2 separate regions of the Homo sapiens genome follow, and region 2 is linked to region 1. The links come from fine-mapping of genetic effects on gene expression. A gene starts in region 1. The other region holds a variant in brackets. All regions are shown on one strand. Distances are from middle to middle. Region 1 holds the start of KLHDC2 (kelch domain containing 2). Region 2 holds the start of NEMF (nuclear export mediator factor).

Evidence for each region. PIP is the estimated chance that this variant, and not a neighbour inherited with it, causes the effect.
Region 2: its variant is fine-mapped to the expression of KLHDC2 in NK cells (Gilchrist 2021, PIP 0.95).

Annotation. Positions count from the first base shown.
Region 1 is chr14:49,756,181-49,772,107 of GRCh38, reverse strand. It overlaps KLHDC2 (kelch domain containing 2), which reads right to left and starts at 3,955. Exons shown (of 13, transcript NM_014315.3): 1 at 3,487-3,955; 2 at 435-514. The coding sequence starts at 3,639. RefSeq lists silencers at 3,726-3,905, 4,076-4,155, 4,496-4,555.
Region 2 is chr14:49,846,004-49,862,212 of GRCh38, reverse strand. NEMF (nuclear export mediator factor) reads left to right here and starts at 9,425. Exons shown (of 33, transcript NM_004713.6): 1 at 9,425-9,518; 2 at 10,338-10,406; 3 at 10,548-10,650; 4 at 15,948-16,073. The coding sequence starts at 9,460. It overlaps LOC105378179 (a long non-coding RNA gene), which reads left to right. Exons shown (of 3, transcript XR_943839.3): 3 at 1-2,319. It also overlaps RN7SL3. RefSeq lists enhancers at 1-243, 9,179-9,418 and a silencer at 8,316-8,375. The variant T/C (reference allele first, on the strand shown) is at 9,433.

The DNA of each region.
Region 1 (15,927 bases):
CTAAATTAAGCTTAGCAGCTAAGCTAAAGTAGCAGAACAGTGTTTTTAGAATATATAAGTAGCTTAGAAAGTGTTTTACATTTTTTTCTTTGCAGCCATATCTGATTTGTTTGTTTTTGGAGACAGTTTTGCTCTGTCACCCAGACTGGAGTGCAGTGGCTCGATCTCAGCTCACTGCAACCTCCGCCTCCCAGATTCAAGCGATTCTCCCACCTCGGACTCCCAAGTAGCTGGAATTAGCACGCCACCATGCCTGGCTAATTTTTGTATTTTTAATAGAGATGGGGTTTCACCCCAGCCTGGTGTTGAACTCTTGACCTCGAGAGATCCGCCCGCGTTGGCCTCCCAAAGTGCTGGGATTATAGGCATGAGCCAGCCACCGTGCCCAGCCCTTATCTGAATTTTTTAGTCCCCCTTATAATATCCACATTTACCATCTTCCAGTCTCCATGTTGTAGATCCATAGTTCTTCTCTAGGCAGATAAAAGTCATATAATCCTCTGACTTGATTACTCTAAGAATAAAAAAAATTGTAAATATAAAAACTGGTATTTTAAAGAGGCACTACTGTATTTTTTAAATCGATCTTGAGATACTAATTTCATAATTAGTATGAAAAATAGGTATTACAGTGCACAATCCTCCCCCACCCATGCCACACACTCAAGGTAAAGCTCAACATAGATAGCTCTTAATTCAGAATTTTGATACAGCAGTTGCAATAGGACAAGAAGAGATCTCTGGGAACTTTTTTTTTTTTAGTCCAAGTCTCTATTGCTCAGGATGGAGTGCAGTGGCGCAATCTTGGCTGGCTCACTGCAATGTCCACCTCCTGGGTTCAAGTGATTCTCCTGCCTCAGCCTCCTAAGTAGCTGGGACTGCACGCACTCGCCATCACGCCTGGCTAATTTTTGTATTTTTAGTAGAGACAGGGTTTCACCATGTTGGCCAGGCTGGTCTCAAACTCCCAACCTCAAGCAATCCACCCACCTCAGCCTCCCAAAGTGCTGGGATTACAGGCTGTGAGCCATTGTGCCCAGCCAAGAGATCTCTGGGAACTCTCTAAGGCAGCTTTATCCTGAACAGAACCATGCACCAAATTTCAGCTGCATGACTTCAGGAGACTGCCTGTGCCATGGTCAGCAGGCTGTTACTGAAAGTGCCTGATCCACGCTAACACGATGCGTGGTTTTCTAGCCATGCCTTCCTTTCACCTATCCATTCTCTAAGCAGCAATAGAGAGGGCAGAACTGCAAATATGCAAAATATTAAATCCTTATGCAGAATTTTAAGTTCTTTGTTCTGCTCCATTTCCCTTCAGGTATTAATTCCTAACACAGACTGAGCCTACCATATGCCACAGCTGAAAGCTATCCATGGATTGCTTTATTTAATCCTCACAACAACCCTAAAAAGTAGCTGATGTTATGAGAAAACAAGTTTAGAGTTTAAGTAATTTGCCCAAGGTTATTTATGAAGTAATGATGGAGCCAGGATTCTATCCTTTCCCTGAACTTTAACAACTGCCTGACATTCCCAGCCTTTGACCCTCCCTAGCCACTTTCTGAACAATGTTGACACAGTAAACGACTGCGGTTAGCCAAAAATGGGTGTCAAAGTCCAGCAAGCTTGAATATTAAACATACAGAAACAGAACAGTTGACCACGTAAAACAACTTCTTTTTCCACCCCACCAGTGATGAAGGGAAAGGCTGGAAGCGGGCTGACCCACAGGGGACCAGCCTGTCCTGGGGAGGAAAACTGCCTACTATGTAGGAAGCCAAGGTTTATTGCCTTTGAAACAATCTCCAAGGACTTCTGTGCCTACCCTCAGGGTTCCAGCCACCAGCCATAAATGGGGAGGGCAGTCTGTTTCAGAACCATCCAATTCAGTGATTGTGCTGCTCCTCCCTGAATCGGCCCCAATCATCCAGGCCCTTTTAAATCCACAAGAAATATTCCACACTAAGAATCCTCCCCTGCCCCACTCCCAAAGTCTTATTCTCTCATGCTGTCATTTTAAAAATACAATTATGAATTAGGTAGCTTAGAAGTGTCATTGACAGGTTTCTCCAGGGGAATTAATTTACATTTTTATAAGGGTGACTACATGCTTGCCCCCCCGCCCCCCTTCTTGCAATTCTCTACCCCTTTCTAAAGTATTTTTGAGACAGTTTCCTTCTTGTTGCCCAGGCTGGAGTGCAATGGCGCCGTCTCAGCTCACTGCAAACTCCGCCTCCCTGGTTCAAGTGATTCTCCTGCCTTAGCCTCTCAAGTAGACGGGATTAGGGCGCCCGTCACCACGCCAGGCTAATTTTTTTTTTTGTATTTTTAGTAGAGACGGAGTTTCACTATGTTGGCCAGGCTGGTCTCGAGCTCCTGACTTCAGCTGATCCACCTACCTTGGCCTCCCAAAGTGCTAGGATTACAGGCGTGAGCCACCGCGCCCGGCCCCCTTTCTATTTTCTAACCACATTCATTGGAAACTGGGGAAAACACTGCAGATTCATTAGGATTGGCAAAAAATTACTTTTGCAGTTAAACCAAAATAAAGTATCAGGACAGCCATCTTTGAAAGCTATCTCAAAAATGGTCAACTATGATCAAGTCAGCTGTACCATAAGCTAAAAACAATCACAAAGCAAGTCATCCAAGGCACGGGCGTGGGGAGGGCGGAGAACATTTTCAAGACCAAAGAGGAATTTTGTGGTAGGACTGGCTCAGAGCCATCCTAGCAAATAAAATTCTAGATTTCCGAGGTTAGCAGGGTAAAGAATGGCAACTGGCTTTAAACTGCTAACTAATCACGTTGTTTATAACCAGGGGATCGGAGAGTCAAAGAGCTGCACTCTGTAGTTCATTTGATGCTGGGGATTTTTTGGTTACTGGTGGAGCTTTTCCATTATCTTAATAGGGGTGTCTGCTGAAAAACTTCAACCCAGCTGAAGCCAGAAGGAAAACAGTCCTGATGGCCATTTGCACAGGCGGGAAGGCTGAATAAGGTGGTTCCTGTAACCTTTTGGAATTCCAGTTTTCCTACACCTCGGCCTCCCTGTAAGTGGGCAGCGGTTCCCAGCTCCAGAGGGTGAAGTCCTCGTAGGCCGTCCTCATAACGCGTCTGAGTGATATCACACACCGTCACCTTTCACACCCCAACCCTTCCGAATGCACCGCCCAAGCAACATTAACAGGGCCTTCCCCGGAATAACGCTCCAATGGCAACAACGGGGGTGGGAGTGAGTTGGCTTTGTGAGCACCAGGGTGACATGACAGCAGCCCTGGAGGTTCGAGACGGGTTGGGGTACTCGAGAGAAGGAAGATTCCCGCGCGCAAAAAAAAAACAACCAACGGGCAGAGTCTGAGGTGGGGCGCGCGACGCAGGCGGGGAGCGCCCTCGGCGGCCCGCTCTGGCCTCCCCGCCTGGCCGCGAACGCAGACCCGAGTCACAGCCGAGCGACGTCCGTCGCGGCCCGGCCACTCACTGACCTTGTAGCCGCCCCAGACGAACATGTGGCGCCCGTCGCTGACGGCTACGTGGCCGCTGCGCTCAGCGGGGCAGGCAAGCTCCATGGACTCATAGCTCTCGAAGGCTGGCCCAGGCAAGTCGTCAGCCCGCAGATCCTCGTTGCCATCAGCCATCTTGAGGCTGCACTTTTGCTAACCAACAATGCCCACACCCGCGAGGGGCCAAAAAAACAAAGGAAAAGGAGAGAAATGCACAGCGGCGCGAGGCAAGGAAAAGGCGGTGGCGAAAGGGACGGCGTTGAGGCCTCTCTGCCGCCTGCGCTCGCGTTTCCCAGCCTCCTCGGCCGAGGACGGCTCTCCGCCGCCGCCGGGGCACGCCTGCAGACAGAGGGGCCGCGAGCGGAGCCGGGCGGCGGCGGCGCGGGCCCGGGACTCGGGGCACTGCAGGGAAGCGGTCCGCGTCGGGCCGGCTCCCTATTGCAGCCCGTCTGCCCCGCCTCCTGCAGTCCACGGCCTTGTTTACGCCGCGGCCGGAAGCCGCCCGTTCCGCTGACGCCGCCCGCCGAGCTCCGGAAGCGAGGCTGCCGCTCAGCGCCCCCAGCGCCGGGTCCTCCAGCCGCCGCCGCCGCCGCCGCCGCCTCTGCCCGCGCCTCCGCCTACGGCCTGGGCACCGCAGATCTATGGGGCCCGGCGACTTCTAGTCGCGCTTCGAGTCTCCTTTCACTGAGGGAACCACAGGGATAATGTCCTGAATCGGTCCCTGAAAGCTGCTGAATTTTAGCCGGATTGCCGCAATTTTTTTTTTCTTCCCGAGGATTTCTATTCGTTTGATTGAGGGATGATCTCAGAGGGTTCACAGCCCGGGCAGGGGCACCAGAATTGCTCCACTAGCAAGTTTCTGGTCTCGCCTTAGAGTCGATGCAGGCCCTGCTGTTCTGCGGGCGCGAGGGCAGTCGCTTAGCTCTCACGTGGGGCCCAGCCCGATCCCCGGGGGCCTCTCCTGAGCTCCTGCCGCCCCTGCCGGGCGCCGCCTCTGCGGGAATCTGACGTTGCCGCCGCCGCCGCTGCCGCCGCCAGCCGGGCTGCAGAGTTGGCTTGAAAAGCGTTTCCGAAGCCGTAACCACCCTTTTCTTCAGAAAGAAAGGCGGATCCTTTTCACGCACACACAGCTTTCTCTTATATGATACCTTTCAATTGGGCCAAAAGAAAATTACGAGTTACTGTGCTTGATACCTCACCTGTAAAATAGGGTGGGACAAAAATAATCTTAAATTCTTGATCTTACAGTGCCTGTAGAATTTATCGTGTTTGGTAGGAGGGACGTGCTTCATTATCTCCATTTCCCTCATCTTCTGGTTGGGAGCACTCCATAGAAAAGGAACACTTTGAACAATAAAAGGCTTTTTTTTTTTAATTATTAAAATGCTTATAGCCTGCCACTCCTCCCCTAGTGTGCCAGTGTGTTTACTTGAACTCAAGAACTTGAAAGTTACTTAAGAGGATTAATTAAAGCCTTCAACAAGGAAGCAAATCACCTTGAGGCTGTTAAGACCTTATCTGCCATCCACCCTGGTTGGTGCCCTCAAATCTGTCTGGTTCACAGAATTCCTTGCAGCAGTGTCTTCTCCCAGTCGAATTATGCTCACTAGACTTTGGGGTTATCGAAGTTCCTTGTGAACCAACCTCGTGAATCTGATCGAGTCACTTAAAAACCTTGAGCTGGCTCCCGTCGTCCTTAGTAGAATCCAAAATTAATATCTCGGCTGGGCGCGGTGGCTCACGCCTGTAATCCCAACACTTTGGAAGGCCGAGGCAGGCGGATCACCTGAGGCCAGGAGTTCGAGACCAGCCTGGCCAAAATGGCGAAACTCTGTCTCTACTGAAAATACAAAAAAATTACACAGGCTTGGTGGCCGGCGCCTGTAATCCCAGCTACTTGGGAGGCTCAGGCAGGAGAAACTCTTGAAGCCGGGAGGCGGAGGTTACAGTGAGCCAAAAGGGCACCATTGCACTCCAGCCTGGGCAACAAGAACGAAACTCCGTCTCAAAAAAAAAAAAAAAAAAAAAAAAAAATTCATATCACAGTGCTGTGCAAGAAGACCCAGCATGGTCCAGACCCAGCTTGCCTTTCCAGCTTCAATTCCTGGCTGTGTCCTCCTTCCAGCTACATTACCCTTCTATCATCGTTTTTGTTTTTTGTTTGTTCGAGAGAAGTCTCGCTCTTGTCCCCCAGGCTTGAGTGCACTGGCTCGATCTCGGCTCACTGCAACCTCCGCCTCCCGAGTCCAAACGATTCTCCTGCCTCTGCCTCCCAAGTAGCTGGGACTAAGGCACCTGCCACCACGCCCGGCTGATTTTTGTATTTTTTAGTAGAGATGGGATTTCACCATGTTGGCCAGGCTGGTCTCGAACTCCTGACCTCAGGTGATCCACCCGCCTCGGCCTCTCAAAGTGCTGGGATCACAGGCGTGAGGCACCGCACCCACCCAGCCTATATTTCGTATATATATGCCATTTAATAAAATACTATAATATCCACTTTGATTTACTTATTTATGTTTCAAACCATACTTTTATCCTACTTAGAGCAGTAACAACAAAAAGAGTCTCTGAAACACATTAATTAGTTGTACTATAAGCAGAGTTTCTCAGTGTATCAAAGTATAGTTCCAAGCCCCGTGGGTACCTGGAGACCTTTTCAGGGGCTCCTTAAGGAACTCTCTTTTCTAACTATGTATCTGTGTGAGGCCAGATTTTCTTCACTTAAGTCGGCCTGGCGCAGTGTCTCATGCCTATAATCCCAGTATTTTGGGAGGCTGAGGTGGGCGGATCACTTGAGGTCAGGAGTTCGAGACCAGCCTGATCGACATGGTGAAACCCCGTCTCTACTAAAAAAATAGAAAAATTAGCCAGGCATGGTGGTGGGCGCCTGTAATTCCAGCTACTTGGGAGGTGGAAGCAGAAGAATTGCTTGAATCTGGGAGGTGGAAGATGCAGTGAGCCGAGATCATGCCACTGCACTCCAGCCTGGGTGAGAAAGCAAGACTCTGTCTCAAAAATAAAAATAAAAATGCAAAACAATATCATTCTTTTTGAAATTCTTTTGATTAGGAAAATAAAGTTATTTTTCATTTAAAATGTTATTTATGTTAACAATTTTGTTGTTATTTTGTAATAAATTAAAAAATTTAAACATTAAACTAAATTAAAATTAGTGTTAATTTCTAATATGGCAGATATCTATAGATAAAATCCTCATAAACAAAAGCTCTTGGAGGAACTCAATAATTCTTAAGAGTGTAAAGGGGTCCTAAACTAAACAGTTCTCAAGCTAACAGCCATCTCTGATCATGGCTGGCATACAATCAGCAACTTAATTTTAAAAAGCAAAAGCACATTGTGGCCAGGCGCGGTGGCTCACGCCTGTAATCCCAGCACTTTAGGAGGTGAGGCGGGCAGATCAAGAGGTCAGGAGATTGATACCATCCTGGCCAACATGGTGAAACCCTATCTCTATTTAAAATACAAAAAATTAGCTGGGCGTGGTGGCCTGCACCTGTAGTCCCAGCTACTCCGGAGGCTGAGACAGGAGAATCGCTTGAACCTGGGAGGCTGAGGTTGCCGTGAGCTGAGCTCATACCACTGCACTCTAGCTAGCAATACAGTGAGACTCCATCTCAAAAAAAAAAAAGCAAAAGCATATTGTTTTCAGAATCACTTTCTTTTGAGGAAAATTTTCTAATTTTGACCTAAATGGGATAGAATCAAAAAAATTTCAAGGCCTTTGACAACTTTAGAGTACATTACTTATCCTACTTTGTATGTGTATCTATATTGATACTCAGACATTTTCACTTCCTTCATTTTAATATCCCTCAATTATCTTAACAAAAACAACAAAGGACCTCCAACCTTTTAATCACTGCCTATAAATTGTACATCTTATCAAATAAAAATAGAAGAGACAATTGAAGTTAGTTTAAGAATAAAAGTCTCTTTGTAAAGATAATAAAATTCTTAAAAATCCACTATAGGTCATTTGAAATTCAATGATTGATAATGCTATCATTATAATCATAATCCAGAATGTGTGCAAAAAAATCTTTTGCTGAAAAAAATACTCTTGTAAGACTTCCAATTTCTTTTTTTTCTTCCTTTTGATGTGGGGTCTCACTGTGTTACCCAGGTTGGAATACAGTGGCGTGATCTCGGCTCACTGCAACCTCCACCTCCCAGGCTCAAACGATCCTCTCGCCTCAGCCTCCCAAGTAGGTGGGACTACAGGCGTGTGCCACCACACCGGCTAACTTTTCTGTATTTTTGGTAGAGATGGGGGATTTCACCATGTTGTCCAGGCTGGTCTCGAACTCTTGAACTCAAGTGATCCACCACCTCGGCCTCCCAAAGTGCTGGGATTACAGGCATGAACCACTGTGCCCTGCCCAAGACTTCCAGTTTTTAGTCTGGCATGTAAACAGCTTAGAAGCTGCCACTCCATCCTAACAACAAACAAAAAGCTGAGCAAACTGAAAAATCAACAACTGTTCTTAGATCAATCAGAGAAGTGAGGTCACAGTGCAAACCACTGCCTGTCAAACTGCAGAGACAGATGGGTGAATACAGAGAATCACAATTTACCAAAGCAGAAACCCATGAGCAAAAACCTTCTGAGCTACCAGTTTGGGAGCATAAAAACTTTACAGTAATTGATGACTTGTTGGAGGCTCAGTGTGAACACGTTTTAGACTTAAAAACTCCAGGGGGCTGGGTGTGGTGGCTCATGCCTGTAATCCCAGCAATTTAGGAGGCCTAGGTGGGCAGATCACTTGAGGTCAGGCGTTCGGGATCAGCCTGATCAACATAGTGAAATCCCATCTCTATTAAAAATATAAAAAATAGCCGGGTTTGGTGACACTTGCCTGTAGTCCCAGCTACTAGGGAGGGTGAGACACAGGAATTGCTTATATCCAGGAAGCTGCAGTGAGCTGAGATCATATGACTGCACTCCAGCCTGGGCAACAGAGTAAGACCCTGTATCAAAAAAACAAACAAATAAACAAAACCACAACTCCGGGGGACCCAGTCATAGGACGATCCTCACACTTTTTTGAGTTTACCTCCAGGAGGTCTCTTAGGTTCTTACAGTAAATATCAGAGAAAAATTATCTCATGCTTCCAGCAAGGGTAAGGAAAAAGGAACCATTTTGAAATATGCTAGTTCTTCTTAACAAGGGCTGCCTCAGGAGAAACTATTTTATCAAAGCCTACTCTACCTGGCAAAAGGAAAATACCTAATTCCAGCCGCCTCTAGCCATTCTGTTCCACCTAAGTGGGGGAAAAACTGAGAACTGGGGTGAAGTTGATAGTCCAGGGGCACAGGCTCCTAAAAAGACAGATGATTATAGGACTACAGAATGCTTTCCCTCCCCACACTTCTTACTACCACACCACAGAAGGCCTATTTACCAGAGTTTCTTTCACCCAGCTCATCATGTTTAGGTTTCAACAAAAAATTGCAAGGCATAATAAAAGTCAAAACATCGTGGGCTGGGTGTGGAGGCTCATGCCTGAAATCTCAGCACTTTGGGAGGCCGAGACGGGTGGATCACCTAAGGTCAGGAGTTTGAGACCAGCCTGGCCAACATGGCAAAACCCTGTCTCTACTAAAAATACAAAAATTAGCCGGGTGTGGTGGCACATGCCAGTAATCCCAGCTATTCCAGAGGCTGAGGCAGGAAAATCACTCGAATTTGGGAGGCAGAGGTTGCAGTGAGCCAAGATCGCACCACTGCACTCCAGCCTGGGCAACAGAGTGAGACTCTCTCAAAAAAAACAATGACAACAAAAAACACAGTGTGAAGAAATGAGCAAGCATCTGAAGCAGACTCGGATAAGACAGGAATGTTGAAGTTATCAGACTAGGAATTTAAAACAACTATGATTAATATGCTAAAGCCTCTAATGGAAAAAGTAGTCAAATGCAAGAACAGATGGGTAATGGCCAGGCACAGTGGCTCACCCCTATAATCCCAGCAATTTAGGAGGCCTAGGCAGGCAGATCGCTTGAGCCCAAGAGTTCAAGACTAGCCTGGGCAACAGGGCAAAACACTGTTATCTACAAAAAATACAAAAATTAGCCGGCCATAGTGGCATGCGCCTGTGGAACCAGCCAGCTACTCAGGAGGCTGAGGTGGGAGGATTGCTTAAGTCAGATGGGTAAGGTAAATAGAGAAGATATGGAAATTCTCAGAAAGAACCAAACAGAAATGCTAGAGATCAAATAAACTGTAACGAAGATGAAGAATGCCTTTGATGAACTAACTAGTAGGCTGGACATAGCTGAGGAAAGAATCTCTGAGTTTGAGGGTATGTCAATAAAACTTCCAAAACTGAAACGCAAAGAGAAAAAAGACCAAAAAGAAAAAAAAAGGCACCTCAGACTCCCCTAGAATATCCAATAACTGTGGCACAATCACAAAAGGTGTAACCTAAGTGTAATGGGTTAGAAAGAGAGAAAGGTCCACTGTGAAGAGAAGGACAAAAGCCTGGCTGACCATGCCACCTGGGTCCTAGGGCCTTCAGGAAACCTATACAGTAGCCACGTGGGGGTTACAGTAGGCCTTGGGTGACATCCAGTGCTGTGCTGGCTCCATGTCTGACCCAGCACAGTCCCTGTGGTGGTGGCCACAGGAGTACTTGCATCACCATACCCCCAGTTCCAGGTAGCTCAGAACGGAGAGACTCAATTTGTTTGGAGAAAGTAAGGGAAGAGAACAAGAGTCTCTATCTGTTAATCCAAAGAATTCTTGCAGATCTTATCCAAGACAACCAAGGTGGCACCTCTATTAGTCTGCTAGAACCACAGTTCACAGGGCACGGAATCCCCCCCAATGCAGATAACAGTTTAGATCACAACACCCACATCCTTTTGAATAGCTGCAAAGCCTTTCCAAGGAGGACAGATACGAACAAGCCCAGACTGTGAAGACTACAATAAATGCCTAACTCTTCAATGCCCAGACACTGATGAACATCCACAAGTATCAAGACCATCAAGGAAAACGTGACCACACCAAATGAACTTAATAAGGCACCAGGGACCAATCCTGAAGACACAGAGATATGTGAACTATCAGATAGACAATTCAAAATAGCTGTTTTGAGGAAACTCAACGAAATTCAAGAAATTCAGGATAATGCAGAAGAGGAATTTAGAATAATATTAGATAAATTTAACAAAGAAATGGAAATAATTAAAAAGAATCAGGCGGAAATTCCGGAGCTCGAAAATGCAACTGACATACTGAAGAATGCATCAGTCTCTTAATAGCAGAATTGATCAAGCAGAAGAAATAAATGGTGAGCTTGAAGACAGGCTATTTGAAAATACACAGAGGAAACAGAAGAATAAATTTTTTTTTTTTTTTTTTGAGAGACGAGAGTCTCGCTCCGTCACCCAGGCTAGAGTGCAGTGGCGTAATCTCGGCTCACTGCAACCTTCACCTCCGGGGTTCAACCATTGTGGAAGACAAGTATGGCGATTCCTCAAGGATCTAGAACCAGAAATACCATTTGACCCAGCAATCCCATTACTGGGTATCTACCCAAAGGATTATAAATCATTCTACTATAAAGACACATGCACACATTTATTGCGGCACTATTCACAATAGCAAAGACTTGGAACCAACCCAAATGCCCATCAATGATAGACTGGATAAAGAAAATGTGGCACATATACACCATGGAATACTATGCAGCCATAAAAAAGGATGAGTTCACGTCCTTTGCAGGGACATGGATGAAACTGGAAACCATCATTCTCAGCAAACTAACACAAGAACAGAAAACCAAACACCATCATGTTCTCACTCATAAGTGGTAGTTCAACAGTGAGAACACATGGACACAGGGAATCACACACCAGGGCCTGTTGGGGGGTGGGGGGCTAGGGGAGGGATAGCATTAGGAGAAATACCTAATGTAGATGACGGGTTGATGGGTGCAGCAAACCACCATGGCACGTGTATACCTATGTAACAAACCTGCACGTTCTGCACATGTACCCCAGAACTTAAAGTATAATAAAACAAAATTAAATTCTGAAGGAAAAAAAACTTTTGCCCTAGAATAGTATGTCCAGTGAAAATATCCATCAAACATGAAGGAGAAATAAAGACTTTTCTAGACAAACATGAGCTGAGGGATTTCATCAGTACCAGACCTGTCCTATAAGAAATGCTAAAGGGAGTATTTCAATCAGAAAGAAAAGGATGTCAGTGAGCAGTAAGAAATCATCTGAAAGTACTAAACTCACTGGTAATAGTAAATACACAGAAAAACACAGACTATTATAACACTGTAACTGTGGTGTGCAAACTACTCTTAAGTAGAAAGACTAAAAATGAACTAGTCAAAAATAACTACAACAAATTTTCAAGACATATATAGGACAATAATAAATAGAAATGACAAAAAATTAAAAAGCTGGGGAATTAAGTTAAAATGTAGAGGTTTTATTAGTTTACTTTTTGCTTGTTAGTTTGTTTATGCAAGCAGTGTTAAGTAGCTATCAGCTTAAAATAATAGGTTTTAAGATAGTATCTGCAAGCCTCATGGTAACCTCAAATCAAAAAAACATATAATGGAAACACAAAAAATAAAAAGCAAGAAATTCAATCATACCACCAGAGAAAATCATCTTTACTAAAAGGAAGACAAGAAGGAAAGGAGGAAGAGAAAACCACAAAAGAACCAGAAAACAAATAACAATATGGCAGGAGTAAGTCCTTACTTATCAATAATAATATTGAGTGTAAATAGACTAAAGTCTCCAATCAAAAGACATGTTGTGGCTGAATGAATTAAAAAAAAAAACCAAGACTCAATGATCTGTTGCCTGGAAGAAATGCACTTCACCTATAAAGACACACAGTCTGAAAATAAAGGGATGGAAAAAGATGTTCCATGCCAATGGAAACAAACAAACAAAAGAGCAGGAGAAGCTATACTTATTCAGACAAAATAAATTTCAAGACAAAAACTGTAAGAAGAGACAAAGTCATTACATAATAATAAAAGGGTCAATTCAGCAAGAGGATATAACAATTTTATTTTATTTTTTTGAGATGGAGTCTTGCTCTGTCGCCAGGCTGGAGTGCAGTGGCACCATCTCGGCTCACTGCAACCTCTGCCTCCCAGGTTCAAGTGATTCTCCTGCCTCAGCCTTCTAAGTAGCTGGGACTACAGGCGTGTGCCACCACACCCAGCTAATTTTTGTATTTTTAGTAGAGACAGGGTTTCACCATGTTGGCCAGGATGGTCTCAAACTCCTGACCTCAGGTGATCCACCTGCCTCAGCCTCCCAAAGTGCTGGGATTACAGGCATGAGCCACCGCACCTGGCCAACAATTTTAAATATCTATGCACTCAACACTGGAGCACCCAGATGTTTAAGGCAAATATTAGTAGAGCTAAAGAGAGAGATAGACCCCCAATACAAAAATAGCTGGAGACTTTAACACCCCAATTCTCTACAATCTCTTTCAGAAGATTAGAGGCAGAGAAAATACTTCTTCCTTTTTTTTTTTGAGATGTAGTTTCACTCTTGTCTCCCAGGCTGGAGCGCAATGATGTGATCCTGGCTCACTGCAACCTCCGCCTTCTGGGTTCAAGCAATTCTCGTGCTTCAGCCTCCTGAGTAGCTGGGATTACAGGCGCCTGCCACCACACCTGGCTAATTTTTTGTATTTTTTGTGGAGACGGGGCTTCACTATGTTGGCCAGGCTGGTCTCGAACTCCTGACCTCAAGTGATCCACCCACCTCAGCCTCCCTAAGTGCTGGGATTACAGGTGTGAGCCACTGTGCCCAGCCTGAGAAAATATATCTTAACTAATTATATGAGGCCAGCATTACCCTAATATCAAAGCCAGGCAAAGACAGGGTAAAAAAAACTACAGACTAATACCCCTCATAAATATAGATGCAAAAATTCTCAACAAAATACAAACAGTCCCTAACTTACTATGGTTCTACTTAAGGATTTTTTGACTTTATGATGATATGAATGTAATAACCATTAAGTAGAAACTGTACCTCAAATTTTGATTTTTGATCTTTTCCTGGGCTAGTTATATGCAATATCATACTCGCTTATGCTGGGCAGCTGTGACAAGCTGCAGCTCCCAATCAGCCATGCAATCATGAGGGTAAACAACCAATACTGTACTATACTGTATTCAACGATTTATTATAAAATAGGCTTTGTCTTAGATTATTTTGCCCAACAATAGGCTAATATATGTATTCTGAGCATTTTTTTTTTTTTTTTTGAGACGGAGTCTTGCTCTGTCACCAGGCTGGAGTGCAGTGGCCCAATCTTGGCTCAGTGCAACCTCCATCTCCCGGGTTCAAGCGATTGCCCTGCCTCAGCCTCCCGAGTAGCTGGGACTACAGGAGCAGGCCACCACACCTGGCTAATTTTTTTTTTTTTTTTTTTTTTTTTTTTGAGACGGAGTCTCGCTCTGTAGCCCAGGCTGGAGTACAATGGCACGATCTCAGCTCACTGCAAGCTCCGCCTCCCGGGTTCACGCCATTCTCCTGCCTCAGCCTCCCGAGTAGCTGGGACTACAGGCACCCACCACCACGCCCAGCTAATTTTTTTGTATTTTTAGTAGAGATGGGGTTTCACCGTGTTATCCAGGATGGTCTCGATCTCCTGACCTCGTGATCCACCCGCCTCGGCCTCCCAAAGTGCTGGGATTACAGGCGTGAGACACCGCGCCCGGTGCCACACCTGGCTAATTTTTTGCATTTTAATAGAGACAGGTTTTCACCATGTTGGCCAGGATGGTCTCGATGTCTTGACTTTATGATCTGCCCACCTTGGCCTCCCAAAGTGCTGGGATTACAGATATGATCCATCATGCCTGGCCAGTATTCTGAGCCTGTTTAAGGTAGGCTAGGCTATGATGTTTGGTAGGTTAGGTGTACTATGCATTTTTTGATTTATATTTTCAATTTACAATGGGCTTATTGGGACTTAACACCAACAAAAGTTGTGGAACATCTGTATTAGCAAATCCTGTGCAAAAAGAATTATATACCACAATTGAGTAGGATTTATCCCAGATATGCAAGGCTGGTTTAACATTTGAAAATCAATTAACGGCCAGGTGCGGTGGCTCATGCCTGTAATCCTAGCACTTTGGGAGGCCAAGGTGGGCAGACCACTTGAGGTCAGAAGTTCGAGACCAGCCTGGCCAACGTAGTGAACTCCTGTCTCTATTAAAAAGTACAAAAATTAGCCTGGCATGGTGGCAGGAGCCTGTAATCCCAGCTACTTGGGGGCTGAGGCAGGAGAATCACTTGAACCCGGGAGGTGGAGGTTGCAGTGAGCCGAGATCACACCACTGCACTCCAGCCTGGGCAACAGAGCCAGACTGCGTCTCAACAACAACAACAAAAAAAATCAATTTACATAATCAATCACATGAGCACATCAATGGATACAGGAAAAGCACTGGACAAAATCCAACACCCATTCATGATAAGAACTCTCAGCAAACTAGGAATAGACAGGAATCTCCTCAACTTAATAAAGAACATCTACAAAATACCTATGCTAACATAAGACATAATGGTGAGAAACTCAAAGCTTTCCCTTAAGATCAGGAACAAAGCAACGATGCCCTCTCTCACCACTGCTTTCTAATATCATACTGAAAGTTCTAATTAATGCAATAAAACAAGAAAAGGAAATTTTATACAGTTTGGGATGGAAGAAATAAAACTGTCTTTGTTAGCAGATGACATGATCATCTATGTAGAAAATCTGACCAGAAAATCCCTCCTGGAACTAATAAGCAATTATAGCAAGGTTTCAGGATACAGAATTAATATACAAGAGCCAATCATTTTCCTATATCAGTAATGAGTAAGTGGAATTTGAAATTAAAAACACATTAGCATTATGTTAGCAGCACCCAAAATTACATAGGTATAAGTCTAACAAAATATGCATAAAACTTGGATGAAAATCTTCAAAGAACATCTAAATAATTGGAGATATATTCCATATTCACGGACAGGAGATTTACTGTTAAGATATCAGTTCTGGCTGGGTGCAGTGGCTCACGCCTGTAATCCAAGCACTTTGGGAGGCCGAGGTGGGCAGATCAAGAGGTCAGGAGTTCGAGACCAGTCTGATCTCGAACTGGTAAACCCCGTCTCTACTAAAATACAAAAATTAGCCAGGCATAGTGGTGCGCACCTGTAATCCCAGCTACTCGGGAGGCTGAGGCAGGAGAATCGCTTGAAACTGGGAGTCAGAGGTTGCAGTGAGCCAAGATCGCACCACTGCACTCCAGCCTGGGCGACAGAGCGAGACTCCATCTCAAATAAATAAATAAATAAATAAATAAATACATAAATAAATAAATATCAGTTCTTCCTCACTTGAT
Region 2 (16,209 bases), 90 kb before region 1:
CCTTCGGAGCCAACAGGGGCTGCTCGTTTACCCACAGACAGTCGGAAAAAAATGGCCGCCGGATCACAGAGAGCAAAAAGTACGTTCTCTTAAAGAATTTCCAAGTTCTTCCCGCGGCCGTTCAGGATGCTGCTTGCAGTTACCAACATTATTCCCCTGCACTGAGCTGACCTGAGCTTCCCTGCCTACCTCCTGTCACGGATGTCACCTTCTTTCACCCCTGTCCTGTCAAGGTTTTTGCTTTAGAATGCTATAGACCAAAGACGGGCTAATCAACAGTCTTACACACAAATCCTTTCGTTCTACTTGGCTACAGGCAGGGCTAATCTTCCGAAGAGGAATCCCACTACTGCCTCCTTATAAGGGAAAAACTCCTCTCAGAGGAACCCAGAACGCCCTGTGATGACAGAGGTGAGGGGCCAGCGTGGCAGAATGCACCACCCTGTCTCCTCGCTTGCTTCTCTCTCCGTCGGATTGCCAAAAAGGGAACGGCACCTAGACGCCGAAAAGTAACTGAAGCAAAGGGAGTTTAAAGAACGCGCCCAGCCGCCTGGGTCTTGAACCCAGTGTTAATGAGAGCAAAAACCTCTGCATCCTCCACTGAGCTGTCCTTGAGCATGTCTCATAATCATGCTTCATTTTAAAAACAGAAATAAGTGAGTAAGCTATGAAAGAAGACAACCTTTAAATTTTTCAAAAGTTCTTGGTGGTCTGTGATTAGAAATTTCATCTATATGAAATAACTGTTTTGGAGGGCTTACTGTTAAATTCAGGCATTTTAGGGCCAGTGGAAACTGGTTAAGCATTCACATCAGTCTTAACATTAATCTGATAATCTACTGGGAGTTTAAAGACTCTAAGCACTAAACACAGATTTTCCTCACTGTCTATAAAATGAAAGAGGAAAGAAGCATTGTACTAAATTTTTTATAAAGCTAATTGTATTCCCTTTTTTTTTTTTGAGGTAGTTCATTGCATTTTGAACAAGGATAACTGTCAGAAAAGATCCTCTTTGAATAAAACAGGTATCTCCCCCATGGCTGCTTCTGGGTCTGCCCTCTGCAACCACATGGAATAGGTCTGATTCCGGTTCTTCAGGACAACTTTTCAAGAATTAAAAAATCACCTCCAAATGAATGCATTTTTACAAAATGAAAATAGGTAGAGATGCTATTTTAAAAAAAAAAAAACTTTACCTTCTCACCAACCTTAAAATAAGAAGCAAAATAATTTTGGTATATCTTTTTTTTTTTTTTTTTGAGACAGAGTCTTGCTCTGTCTCCCAGGCTGGAGTTCCGGGGAGCGATCTCTGCTCACTGCAACCTCTGCCTCCCGGGTTCAAGCGCTTCACCTGCCTCAAGCCTCCCGAGTAGCTGGGATTACAGGCACACACCAGCATGCCCGGCTAATTTTTGTATCTCTTGTTTTTCACTAAATGGATCCCTGAATTGGACCCAGAATGACTTAGCTATGGATGTAAGAACTGCTTTTGAGTAGCTGCCTCCATTAGCCCTGGGGTTCCTACTTCCTGAGTACCATGACCTCTGGGATAACTCAGCTTTGTGGAACTGAGGTGCAATAGGCAGCATAATGACCCCCTCCCCAAAGATATCTATGTGCTAACTAACCAAGGAATGTGGACAGCCCCCTGAAGCTGGAAAAGGCAAGGAAAGGGATTCTCTTCAAGAGTTTCCAGAAGGAATGCAGCCCTCTTCACCAATTTGGTACTTCTGATCTCCAGAACTCTTAAATAATAAATTTGGCCGCATGTAGTGGCTCACACCTGTAATTCCCAGCACTTTGAGAGGCCAAGGAAGGTGGATTGCTTGAGCTCAGGATTTGGAGACCAGCCTGCACAAAATGGTGAAACCCTGTCTCTACAAAAAATATGAAAATTAACCATGTGTGGTAGTATGTGCCTGTAGTCTCAGCTACCAGGGAGGCTGAGGTGGGAGGATCACCTGAGCCCAGGAGGTTGAGGCTGCAGTGAGTTGTTAGTGTCCCACTGCATTCCAGCCAAGGGGACAGAGTGAGACCCCATCTCAATAATAATAATAATAAATTTATGTTGTTTAAGCCTCTAAATTTGTGGTAATTTGATACAGCAAATTACCACAGAATAGGAAAGTAATACATGGGGGGAATCAAGCTCAGTCTGTAACTGACAAAACTCTGAGAGGTCAGAAAGGTATCCTTTCAGTAACTGTCTTCTCGAACTCCTGACCTCAAGTGATGCACCTACCTCAACCGTGCCCAGCCAGTAACTGTGTTCTTTAACATACTTATACTTTAAAAAAAAAAAACAACTTTTAAGTTGAACACATTTTCACATTGATATTTTTTTCCGTGTGTGTGTGTGCGTGTGTGTGGACTACACTTTTAAGTTTTTAATTATGTTTAGGGTTAAGATTAGGGTTATGGTGGAATATTTTTGACATATAGTGACTTTAAACTTTTATGGGCTGGGCGCAGTGGCTCACGCCTGTAATCCTAACACTTTGGGAGGCCGAGGCGGGCAGATCACCTGAGGTCGGGAGTTCAAGACCAGCCTGACCAACATGGAGAAACCCCCATCTGTAATAAAAATACAAAATTAGCCAGGTGTGGTGGTACATGCCTATAATCCCAGCTACTGGGGAGACTGAGGCAGGAGAATCGCTTGAACCTGGGAGGCAGAGGCTGAGGTGAGTCAAGAGTGAGCCATTGCACTCTCAGCCTGGGCAACAAGAGTGAAACTCGGTCTCAAAAACAAAACAAAACAAAACAAAAATAATACCCCTTTAATGTATTCAGATCTGTTAATCTAATCATTTATGTTTTCTGCTTTTGGTGTTTTGCTTTGAATGGTCTCACCCATGCCAAGAGGATATAAATATTCACATAAATGTTTATGACTTTTGTCTTTTAGAGTATGTACTTCACTGATTTAAAAATAACATCCTAGGCCGGGCACAGTGGCTCACGCCTGTAATCCTAGCACTTTGGGAAGCTGAGGCAGGCGGATCACGAGGTCAGGAGTTTGAGACCAGCCTGACCAACATGGCGAAACCCTGTCTCTACTAAAAATACAAAAATTAGCTGGGTGTGGTGGTGTACGCCTGTAATCCCAGCTACTCAGGAGGCTGAGACAGGAGAATTACTTGGACCCGGGAGGTGGAGGTTGCAGTGAGCCGAGCCAGTCTGGCAGTCTGGGTGACAGAGTGATACTCTGTCTCAAAAAAAAAAATACATAAATAAAATAATATTCCTTGTACAAAACAATGTTTTCTTATTCTAAAACTCTATTTTTTTTTTTTTAAGAGATGGAGTCTTGCTCCATCACCAGGCTGGATTGCAGTGGCATGATCATAGATCATAGCTCACTGCAGCCTCACTCCTGGGCTCAAGCCTTTTGCCACAGCCTTCCAAGCAATTGGAGCTATAGGCACATGCCACCATGCCCAGGTTAAATTTGTTTACTAGTAATATGAGAACTGTTAAAAAAAAAAAAACTTCAGACAAATTAAATTTTTCAGAGTTTTTTGACCAAAGAATGATTCATGAACAGGACAGCACTCAGAACCAGAAGAGATTCAGAGCGTTCCACATTGTGGGCAGAGACTATTCACAGATAGAGAAGGGAAGTGAGATACTGAAACAGCTTGATTGGTTACAGCCAAGTATTTGCCTTATTTGGACATGATTTGCTCAATTAACAGCCTATGATTAGCTGAAGCTTGGCAGCTGTGATGGCTGAGACAGCTATTTGTTACAAGAATATACTCGTAAGCTTTCTATTTGTTTACGTACCAAATTGGATTGTTGTTCAGTATTAAGGGACTCAAGGTACAGCAGCAGCCTTAGGCCAAATTTAATATAGCGGAACTCTTACTTTCTTTTTTTTTTTTTTTTTTTTTTTGAGACGGGGTCTTTCTCTGTCACCCAGGCTAGAGTGCAGCAATCTCGGCTCACTGCAACCTCCACCTTCTGGGTTCAAGCGATTCTCCTGCCTCAGCCTCCCGAGTAACTGGAATTATAGGCGCCTGCCACCGTGCCCAGCTAATTTTTGTATTTTTTTAAGTAGATAAGGGGTTTCACCATCTTGGCCAGGCTGGTCTTGATCTCCTGACCTCGTGATCCACCTGCCTCGGCCTCCCAAAGTGCTGGGATTACAGGCATGAGCCACCTCACCCGGCCCTTACTTTCTTTTTTAATGTATTTGCTTAAATCTGCCTATTTTTGTGTAATTTATTGCGTATAACAAACTACTCCAACATTTAGTAGTTTGAGAATACAACTAGGTTTTATTAGGTTTCATGACTTTGAGGGTTAGGAGTTTGTAGCAAAACTCAGCTGAACATTCTTCTGCTCCAGGCGAAGTTGATTGTGGTATTCAGCTGGTGGCTGGTCTAATTTGTAGGGCCCAAGATAACTGAATTCACATGCCTCTGCCTTGACAGGCTTGGCTGTAAAGACATGCTCCTCTTCCTCTCCCTGTAGTCTCAATGCCTCTCTACGGTAGGGTATTAGACTTCTAACATTGTAACTCAAGCTTCAAGAGGCCAAACTGGAAGCTACAAGTCTTATTAAAGGCTAGAGCCAAAAATAGCATAGTATCACTTCTGTTTACCACGCTTTGTTGGTCAAAGGAATCACAGGCTACCCTGGATTCAAAGATGGGAAGAAAACAGAACCTACTTCATGAGTGTTAAAGAATGTGTGGCCATTTTTAATTTCTATCATACCTACTCTTTAACTTCTTGGTTTTGTTGTTGTTGTGTTTTTGAGACAGAGTCTCGTTCGCTGTGTCACCCGGGCTGGAGTATAGTGTTGCGATCTTGACTCACCGCAACCTCCACGTCCCAGGCTCAAGTGATTCTCCTGCCTAAGCTTCCCCAGTAGCTGGCATTACAGGCATGTGCCACCACACCTGGCTAATTTTTGTATTTTTAGTAGAGATGGGGTTTCACCATGTTGCCCAGGGTGGTCTCGAACTCCTGATCTCAGGTGATCTGCGCCTGCCTCAGCCTCCCAAATTGCTGGGAGTACAGGTGTGAGCCACCGTGCCCAGCCTCTTTAATTTCATTTTAAAATTTATTTTGTTTTGTTTTGTTTGAGACAGGGTCTCACTCAGTCACCCAGGCTGGAGTGCAGTGGCACACTCACAGCTCACTGCAGCCTCAACCTCCTGGGCTCAGGTGGTCCTCTCACCTCAGCCTCCCTAGTAGCTGGGACTACAGGTGCATGCCACCACATCTGGCTAGTTTCTTATATTTTTTGTAGAGAATGGATTTCAACATGTTGCACAGGCTGGTTTTAAACTCCTGGGCTCAAGTGATCCACCTGCCTCAGTCTCCTAAAGGGCTGGGATTACAGGCGCAAGCCACTGTGCCTGGCTGTTTTGCTTTTTAAACTTTGTGAGCTGTGTCGTACATATGAAACTGTGCATAAGACATACACATAATGTAAGTTTAAGGAATTTATAAAGTGAGAAACTATATAATTGGCATCTAGAAATAGAACTTTGCCTGCATCCCAGAAACCCGCACCCAAGTACCTTTCCTCTTAGAAATAACCACTATTCTGACTTCGTGGCATTCTCTTGTTATTCTTAATGGTTTTTAGTGCCTGAATATATCTCTAAATAATATTTGAACGGTCTTTACTACCGGAAAGTTCTTCCTTATGTTAAGATTTAATCCATTGCCCTAAAATTTTTTCATTAGTACTTTCTTTAACCCTTGGGGTTATAAATAACAAATTTAGCATTATTTTTACCCAGAAGAACCACAACTATTTTTTGTATTACATGGTTTCAATTGAATTCCACTATTCTGTTTGTTCCATTTGTATGTCTTTCTGGGAAAATATGATTCCCCAGTACACAACAATGTATTCTATCTCTGATTTACTCTCTAAGCATAGGACTGAAAAATCCCATCTCTCATTCTAGATTCCAGACATCTATTGATGAGGCCAAACATAGTGATGGTTAATGCTAAGCTTATAAGAGACTAAAATATTTTATATAAGACAGTGCCTGGGGCTCAGTTTCGGGCTACTGAAAAAAGAAATGGGAATGGTTTCCTTATAAAAGGATGAGTTTGGTCCTCTTGTCTCTCTCATTCTCTCGTTGCTCTTCCACCATGGGATGTAACACCAAGAAAGCCCTTTCAAGATGCCAGTCCTTTGATCTTGGACTTCCTAGTCTCCAGGACTGTGAGGCATTAAATTTATGTTCTTTATAAATTACTTAGTTTGTGGTGTTCTGTTATAGTAGTGTAAAATGAATTATGGGAACAAATAAAATTTGCATATATTTGAGGTGTGTATATATATATAAATATGTTATATATTATATAAATATATTATACATATTATATAAATATTATATAAATATATTATACATATTATATAAATATATTATACATATATCTATATATATAAATATTATATATATATATATTTTTTGAGACAGGGTTTCCCTCTTGTTGCCCAGGCTAGAGTACAATGGCACAGTCTCGGCTCTTTGCAACCTCCACCTCCTGGGTTCAAGTGATTCTCCTGCCTTAGCCTCCCAAGTAGCTGGGATTACAGATGCCTGCCACCACGCCCGGCTAATTTTTGTATTTTTAGTAGAGACAGGGTTTCAGCATGTTGACCAGGCTGATCTTGAACTCCCAACCTCAGGTTATACACCCACCTTGGCCTCCCAAAGTGCTGGGATTACAGGCGTGAGCCACTGCAGCCGGCCAATTTTTTTTTTTTTTTTTTTTTTTTTTTTTTATTAGACAGGGTGTTACTCTGAAGCTCCTGCTGGAGTGTGGTGGCACAATTATGGCCACCATGCCTTGACCTCCTGGGCTGAAGGGATCCTCCTGCCTCAGCCTCCCATGTAGCTGGGACCATAGGTACATGCCATCACACCTGGCTAATTTTTTTATTTTTTTGTAGAGATTGGTGAGGGGGCCTCACTATGTTGTCCGGGCTGGTCTTCTGGGCTCAGGCCATCTGCCAGCCTTGGCCTCCCAAGGTGTTGGAATTATAGGTGTGAGCAACCCGGCCCAGCCATGTGATGTTTTGATGTATGTATACACTGTGAGATGATTACTACAATCAAGCCAATTAACACATCCATAACCTCACACTTTGTATGTGTGTATTTGATATCCACTTTCTTAGCAAATTTCTGTTTTTTATTTTAATTTAACTTTTATTTTAAGTTCATGGGGTATATGTGCAGGTTTGTTATATAGGTAAATTTGTGTCATGGGGTTTGTTTTACAGGTTATTTCATCACCCAGGTATTAAACCTAGTACCCATTAGTTATTTTTGCTGACCCTCTCCCTCCTCCCATTCTCCACCCTCTGATAAGCGCCAGTGTGTGCTGTTCCCCTCCATGGGTCCATGTGTTCTCATCATTCAGCTCCCATTTATAAGTGAGAACATACGGTATTTGGTTTTCTGTTCCCATGCAAATTTCAAGCATACAATACATTACTATGAACTATAATCAGCATGTTGTACATTAAGTCTCCATAACTTACTCTACTTACAACCGAAAGTTTGTGCATTTTGACCAGTATCTTCCCATTTCCCCTACATCCCAAGTCCTGGAAACCACATTTCTGCTGTCTGTTTCTATGAGAAACTTCTAGATTCCACGTATAAGTGAGATCATGCAGTATTTGTCTTTTTATGTCTGGCTTATTTCACTTAGCATAATGTCCTCCAGGTTCATCCATGTTGTTAAATCCATGCCAGTTGCAAACAGCAAGATTTATTTCTTTTTTGAAAGCTGAATAATATTCCACTGTATGTATGTATGTGTGTGTGTGTGTGTGTGTACATATATATTTGCACTCATTATCCGTTCATCCATTGATGAAAAGTAGATTATCCCTATATCTTGGCTATTGTGAATAATGCTGCAATGAACATGAACATATATCTTCAGGATAGTGATGTTGTTGCTAGATCACATGGTAATTCTATTCTTAATTTTGTGAGGAGCCTTTATACTGTTTTGCACAATGGCTCTACTAATTTACATTCCCATCAACAGCATACAAAAGTTCCCTGTTCTCCACCTTCTCCCCAATGCTTTCATATTTTGGGCCATTCTGTATGGTTTACTGTACCGTATGACAGTAATGCTGTGCAGTATGTGCTATAGCCATTTTTGCATCTACTGGTACCAGTTCTGAAATAGCAGCGGCGCCCTTTCTGTTTAGAGTCGCCTTCTGGTGGTAGGAATTCTGGTTGCTACCATGTGTAGCCTGCAAGCCTCTAGCAGCTCTTTTGCAGCGACGCCGAGCGCCGGGCGCGGTGGCGCGTGCCTGTAGTCCCAGCTACTCGGGAGGCTGAGGCTGGAGGATCCCTTGAGTTCAGGAGTTCTGGGCTGTAGTGCGCTATGCCGATCGGGTGTCCGCACTGAGTTCGGCATCAATATGGTGACCTCCCGGGAGCGGGGGACCACCAGGTTGCCTAAGGAGGGGTGAACCGGCCCAGGTCGGAAACGGAGCAGGTCAAAACTCCCGTGCTGATCAGTAGTGGGATTGCGCCTGTGAATAGCCACTGCACTCCAGCCTGGGCAACATAGTGAGACCCTGCCTCTTTTGAGTTCTCACCTTATAAAGTAGCCTTTCTTCCCATGCATCTATCCTAAGACAAAAGAAATGCAGAATTTACATTCTTACAGGACTATTTTCCTCACTACACTGTGAATCCCCCCTCCCACCCCACCCCCATTGGGAATCTTCTTGTTTTTATTTTTATCTTATTTCACCATTATCTAGCTAAACACTTGCACATTCATGCTGCCAAGTGTTTATGGAGCACCGATTGTACACCAGGTACTGCGGTGAGTCTCAGGGGTACCAAGACCGAGGTTCGATGAGAATCCTGTAATCAATTGCAGAATGCTCCTTCCGAGAGCAGGACCCATCAAAATAGGAACTCCGTTTTGAGAGTTCGCCTCGATCGTTGAGGATAATCTTAGAAGGACCGAAGCAGTTCCGTTTCGTTACATTTCAAAATCTTATGTCAAAGTAAGCGCGCAGAAAGGGGTCCTTGCTCTTCTACACTGAGCCCTACGGCCCCCCTGTGGGGAAATACTCCTGATAATCATCTCGAAAATTGTTTCGACCAGCAGGGGTCACTATGAAGGCTGACTTGAGCCCAAGACACAATGGGGCACGGTAACCAGACTGGTCCGTAAGGGTTCCAGGAAGGAATGCAGTTTCAAGAGAACAGTTTGAATCTTTATTCGAATTTGAATTTTGGTACAATGAAGAGAGTCAGCTGCAACTTGACAATCGAAATCTTCAGAAAAGCGACACAAATACGTTCGCCTCGAGGAATATTGGGTCTTCTGCGCGGCCGTAGAGCTCCGCCAAGTGCGCCTGCGCGGAGGAGAAGTGGCGTCGAGTCCGGCCGGGCAGTAGAGGAAC[T/C]TGCGGTAGTGACCCTCGGGCCTCGCCATGAAGAGCCGCTTTAGCACCATTGACCTCCGCGCCGTACTCGCGGAGCTGAATGCTAGGTACAGTACCCTAAGTGACGAGGCTCGTGTGGGGAGTGCAGGAGGCAGAGGCCGGAGTCCCATGGCGCAAACAGACCAGCTTGATATGTTTCCTTATTTCCTAGTGCGTCTATGGACCTGCCTAGGCCTGAGTGGGCAGGCGTGTGGTGTCTTTCCCGTGACCCTTAGGATACCCCTGGGGGTCCCAGGCACCTCGTGCCCCATCCCCCGCGTCCTCCCAGCTCTCTGGCTTGCCCCGCTAGCGCGAAGCTCTTGCATTGTTGGCCTGGGTTGTCCGGGTTGGGCAGGAAACGTTTGTTAAAACACGAGACGCCAGAGTGGTCGTTTGCTTCAGAGGTTTCCAGACTGGGGGCTTGGTTTCTTGAACACCTCCCTCCCCTCACCCCAGAGAGAGAGAGAGCATCGCGGTTTTAGCTGGATTGAGCAGATTTGGACTGAGATCTGGATTCTAGTCTGGATTCTATTATTCAGCCCTGTGAGCTTTGTCATATTTTCGGGGCCCTCTTTTATCTTTTTTTTTTCTCCCTTGTAATAAATTAATTGGATTATATTTTACTGTATTTCTCCCCCAAAATTGGGTCATTTGGAAGACGCAAGCTATAGTGTGTTGTTCCTAGAGCTGATAGACCACTTCTGTTTTTAAATCGTTACTCTTAAGTTTTGAACTGAATCTCCAAATGGCTTTCAGACTCTGCTCCTCGGCTGACTCCATATCCTTAGAGACTGAGATCCGCTCTTTCGAAGCTTTTATTAAATTATGTGTAGTTTTATGTTTCAGACAATAGTGTAACATGTTACATGTTTCCTTTATCTTTGCAGCTTGCTAGGAATGAGAGTAAACAATGTTTATGATGTGGATAATAAGACATACCTTATTCGTCTTCAAAAGTAAGAACATTTTATAGGCTTATTTTCTCTTTGACAATTAAGTATGAGATTACTGATTTTTTTTAACCTACATTTTAAGCCTGTTTAGCAATTAGCTTTGGCATATACCCTAAAGAAAAATTCGACTTTTTTCTTCTACAGACCGGACTTTAAAGCTACACTTTTACTTGAATCTGGCATACGAATTCATACAACAGAATTTGAGTGGCCTAAGAATATGATGCCGTCTAGTTTTGCCATGAAGGTAAACTTGTTACGCTTGAAGCTAAATTTTAAGAGATTGCTCACTAACAATTAAGTTTTTAATTGGGGTTTCCTTCACTGTTACGAATAAAGTGCAGATAAAATGAAGGTAAAGGGAGTGGTTGACAGATAATGGGTTGAATAAAGTGAATATTTATTAATTGATTTCTCCCCATTACCTTTCACATCCTGTTCTGCTCCAGATCTTCTGTTTCCACAGTCACTATTAGAGTTCAAGCTTTTATCACATTCAGCCTTACAGTTCCTTAACTGTAATTCACTTCTCTGCATCAAAACAATTCTAAATTAGACCAACGTTAATTTTTTTGTTTTTGTTTGTTTGTTTTTTTGTTCGTTTTTGAGAAGGAGTCTCGCTCTGTCACCCAGGCTGGAGTGCAGTGGCACAGTCTTGGCTCACTGCAACCTCTGCCTCCCAGGTTCAAGTGATTCTCTTGCCTCAGCCTCCTCAGTAGCTGGGATTACAGGCGTGTGCCACCAGACCCGGCTAATTTCTCTATTTTTAGTAGAGATGGGGTTTCACCATGTTGGCCAGTCTGATCTCAAATGCGTGACCTCAGGTGATCCGCCAGCCTCAGCCTCCTGAAGTGCTGGGATTACAGGCATGAGCCACCGCGCCTGGCCCAACATTAATTTTTTTAAAGTATAATTTTCATTAGTTACCTCACCTTTTATGGTTTCCTGATTTCTAAATCCATATTCTATAGCCTAACATTCTTGGCTTTCTGTGTTCTTTCTCCTCCCTGCCCCACCTTTTTTTCCTAGTCTTATCTTCCAGAGCTCACTTTTGTGAGTCGTATTCCTCTGTACCCAGTCAGTATTTTTTTTTTTTTGGAATACTCACTGACATTAATATGTTACTAAGTCTTTTTATTTTTCTGTTTTGTTTTTACTATTAAAACAGATTTTTACATGGGTGGGCATGCTACCCATTCTTTTATTGATGTAACATATAGATTGAAAATTCATGTGGTACACGAGACTTTCGAGTCACATATACTTAACTTTGAATTAATAGCTTTGTCAGAAAGTAATTTTATAACCTGGAAAAGTTACTTAACCTCTTGGAATTTAGTTTCTTTAAATGTAAAATGTGGATAGTACCTCCTTCATGAAATTATTGGATTAATTGAAATGATATATAAAACACCTAAAACAGACCAGGTGCGGTGGCTCATGCCTGTAATTCCAACACTTTGGGAGGCTGAGGCAGGTGGATCACTTGAGGTCAGAAGTTCAAGGCCAGCCCAGCCAACATGGTGAAACCCTGTCTCTACTAGCCAGGCGTGGTGGCACACACCTGTAATTCCAGCTACTTGGGAGGATGGGGCAGGAGAACCACTTGAACCTGGGAGATAGAGATTGCAGTCAGCTGAGTTCGCACTGTTTCACTCCAGCCTGGGCGACAGAGCGAGACTCCATCTAAAAAAAAAAGAAAGGCACCTGAAACAATACCTGACACATATTAGAACTCCATACATGTTCATTTCCTTCCTGCTCCGCTCCTTACTTTGGCAATGTATCTGTTATGGCATTGAGTTATTTCATTAGAGGCTTTACAGAGAAGAGCTTTACCCCCCAGCAATTTAGAGTCTGTTTTGGATTACAAATTAGGTAAGTGTTTCCATATCACAAGGGCTTTCACAAAATTCTCAGATTATTAAAGTTTAATTTATTTAATAGTAACCCAAAATAGTTCTTTTGGGGCCTGTCCTTAATAATAATGACAATAATAATGCTACCTGTTGTGTAGCACTTTTTAAGGCAGATGAATAATATGTATTTCATTTAAGTTGTTTAGCAACTCAGTGGACTGTGAAGAACAAATACAATTTCAGTTTTATGGATGAGGTAACAGGCCAATGAAATAGGACACTGGGATTGTGTAAACATCTCCAAATCAGACTACACTAATAGGTCAGTCACTTTAAAAAATACTTAGAATTCTATGGGTTAGGTGTACGTGTCAATCTAAATGTATAGAAAGATTTCCTCAATGGAGCAGACAATGTTAAGCACTTTATAAATCAAAGAGCTGTTACTGTTGCATGGCACAGGCAGAGTTATGTCTATTATGTGATAAATCACAGTGGTTGTTCCAGTATTCACATTTGGGGATGACAGCTATAGCTTTGTGGCACACAGCAGCAGGTTGATTTCACCAAGCTGTTGATAGGGAAATGAAACAAGCTTTAAATATGTACTATGTGTCCATCTGTACTCTCCATGATAAATAATCCCCTTTTTACTATTCCTTTGTGTGAACTTCTGTCCTTTCAATGATGCCTTTTGTCTTTATTTTTCTTGAATAAAATTATTACTCAGGGACTCTGGAAGAACTGATTGTGATTTTCCTCTAGGGATTTAAAGATAGCCCTACATGTAGGTTACTGTTTAATCAAATCAGTATAGGTCATTCTTAAAACTACTGAGTTAAGGAGGAGCAGATTGTTTATCCTAGGAAGTTATTCTGCCTATGTGAGTATATAAAATGCGAATTTCAGTCAATTTGGGCTATAAGGTCTGGAGAAGAACTCTTCTTAGTTATGAAAATGTTAGCATTAATTTTAATAATGAATTTATGTGTTTATTGTTGTTTTTTTTCAACCTTTGTCAAGGAGTGGATTTTTTGTCTTTTTTTTGAAGGTGGTCTTAGATTAACTTCTGTAAAATTTGTTTCGTATTTAAGTCTTTTTTTTTTTTTTTTTTTTTGAGACGGAGTCTTGCTCTGTCACCAGGCTGGAGGGCAGTGGCGCAGTCTTGGCTCACTGCAACTTCAGTCTCCTGGGTTCAAGTGATTCTCGTGTCTCAGCCTCCCAAGTAGCTGGGATTACAGGCACACGCCACCATGCCTGGCTAATTTTTGTATTTTTAGTAGAGATGGGGTTTCACCATGTTGGCCAGGCTGGTCTTGAACTCCTGACGTTGTGATCCGCCTGCCTCGGCCTCCCAGAGTGCTGGGATTACAGGCGTGAGCTGCCATACCCAGACCGTATTTGAGTCTTGAAGAAAGCATTCTTTCTTATTGGTCTTAACTAAAGGGTCTTTTATATTAAAAAATTAGAAACAATTGTAAGATATTTTAGAGGCTACAGAGTAGTCTTGTTACCAGTCCATGTCATACTTCAATATTTGTACAAAAAGACGGTACATGTAATCTAAAAGAGTAGGTATTGCCAAGTAAATTGTATTTGGATTTGATATACTAATATTATTTTAATTGTTAATAAGAAAAAGAACCTTATGGCCAGGGATAGGAGGAAGGGGATTTAATAAAGAATGAGAGTTATTACATTGGATTGAAATAGGTTATCAAAAGCTTAGAGACGATACCAGGAAAATTCTCTTTGGGTTATATTAGTAAAGTTTGTAGGAATAAGCTGGGCACAGTGGCAGGGCACTTGTAATCCTAGCTACTTGGGAGGCTAAGGTGGGAGATTGCTTGAGTCCAGGAGTTTGAGCCTTGCCTGGGCAACAGAGAGACTCTGTCCCTTTCTTTTTTTTTTTTTTTTTTGAGACAGAGTCTTGCTCTGTTGCCCAGGCTGGATTGCAGTAGTGTCATCTCGGCTCACTGTAACCTCCGCCTCTTGGGTTCAAGCGATTCTTTTGCCTCAGCCTCCTGAGTAGCTGGGATTACAGGCATGCGCCAGCACGCCCAGCTAATTTTTGTATTTTTAGTAGAGATGGGGTTTCACCATATTGGCCAGGCTGGTCTTGAACTCCTGACCTCAAGTGATCCACCTACCTCGGCCTCCCAAAGTGTTGGGATTACAGGCCTGAGCCACCGCTCCTGGCAAAGACTCTCTTAAAGAAAAAAAAAAAAAAAAAAAAAAAAAAAAGAATTGGTAGGGGTAACTGGATATAAGGTGGTGGACTATTTACAGGATACCATAAGCCATAAGCTCATGGTCCATAGTTGATATGTATTAGAAGTAGAAGATTAGTGGAAACAATTAATTAATTTTGAACATAAATGAAGCATACAAAAGGGAAATTTGGCATACTTAGAAGTGTCATCAAAGAGACTTAAAAAAAATAAAGGGACTGGGTGTGGTGGCTCACGCCTGTAATCCTAACACTTTGGGAGGCCGAGGTGGGCAGATTGCCTGAGCTCAGGAGTTCGAGACCAGCCTGGGCAACGTGGAGAAACCCCGTCTCTACTAAAATACAAAAAATTAGCCAGGCGTGGTAGTGGGCGCCTGTAGTCCCAGCTACTCTTGGGAGGGTGAGGCAGGAGGATTGCTTGAACCTGGGAGGCAGAAGTTGCAGTGAGCCAAGATTGTGCTACTGTACTCCAGCCTGGGTGACAAAGTGAGACTCCGTCTCCAAATAAATAAATAAATAAATAAATAAGTAAAGGTTGGCTGGGCACAGTGGCTCATGCCTGTAATCCCAGCACTTTGGGAGGCTGAGGTGGGCGGATCACGAGGTCAGAACTTCGAGACCAGCCTGACCAACATGGTGAAACCCCGTCTCTACTAAAAATAGAAAAATTAGCCGGGTGTGGTGGCACACGCCTGTAATTTCAGCTACTCAGGAGGCTGAGGCAGGAGAATCACTTGAACCTGGGAGGCGGAGGTTGCAGTGAGCTGAGACTGTGCCACTGCATTCCAGTCTGGGCGACAGAGCGAGACTCTCTCTCAAAATAAAGTAAATAAATAAAGGTTGTGGCTTATGAGTGAGGTCATTAGGACCACAACAAGGAATTTAGCAGTGGTATAAAGCAACAAAGCAAATTTTGCTATAGGTCCATCATTCTCTACTTAAAAATTGAAAATAAAAGCCTGGCTCAGTAGCTTACGCTTGTAATCCCAGCACTTTGGGAGGCCAAGGCAGGAGGATTGCTTGTGCCCAGGAGTTTGAGATTAGCCTGGGCAACATAGTGAGACCCTGTCTCTACAAATAATGAAAAAATTAGCTGGGGATAGTGGCATGTGCCTGTGGTCCCAATCCTCAGGAGGCTGATGCAGGAGGATCACCTGAGCCAGGGAAGTCGAGGCTGCAGCGAGCCATGATCACACCACTGGGCTCCAGTTTGGGTGACAGAGTGAGACCCTGTCTTAAAAAAATGCAAATAAAACACTGTTTCAGAGTTAGTGTTTATAATAAAATGTTTTCCCTCTGATTATCATCTGCAATCTATTACTTTATGACTATACTGTTATTCACAACGTTTTAAATATTCCTGATGATAATGAAAAGAAGCTTATTTATAAACCAATACCAAATGGTTAGGAATTCACTTTTACTAAATGAATGCCTTTTTCTTTCTCTTGCTAGTGCCGAAAACATTTGAAGAGTCGGAGATTAGTCAGTGCAAAACAGCTTGGTGTGGATAGAATTGTAGATTTTCAATTTGGAAGTGATGAAGCTGCTTACCATTTAATCATTGAGCTCTATGATAGGGTAAGTTAAATTTGTGGGATATGGTGAAGGAAAATTTCTTATTAATCATTTTGTAATAGTGCTATATAACATGAGTGGGGGAACATTTTTTTTCTGTGTCAAAGGTTGTTACTACCCTAGGAAATGGGTGCCACAC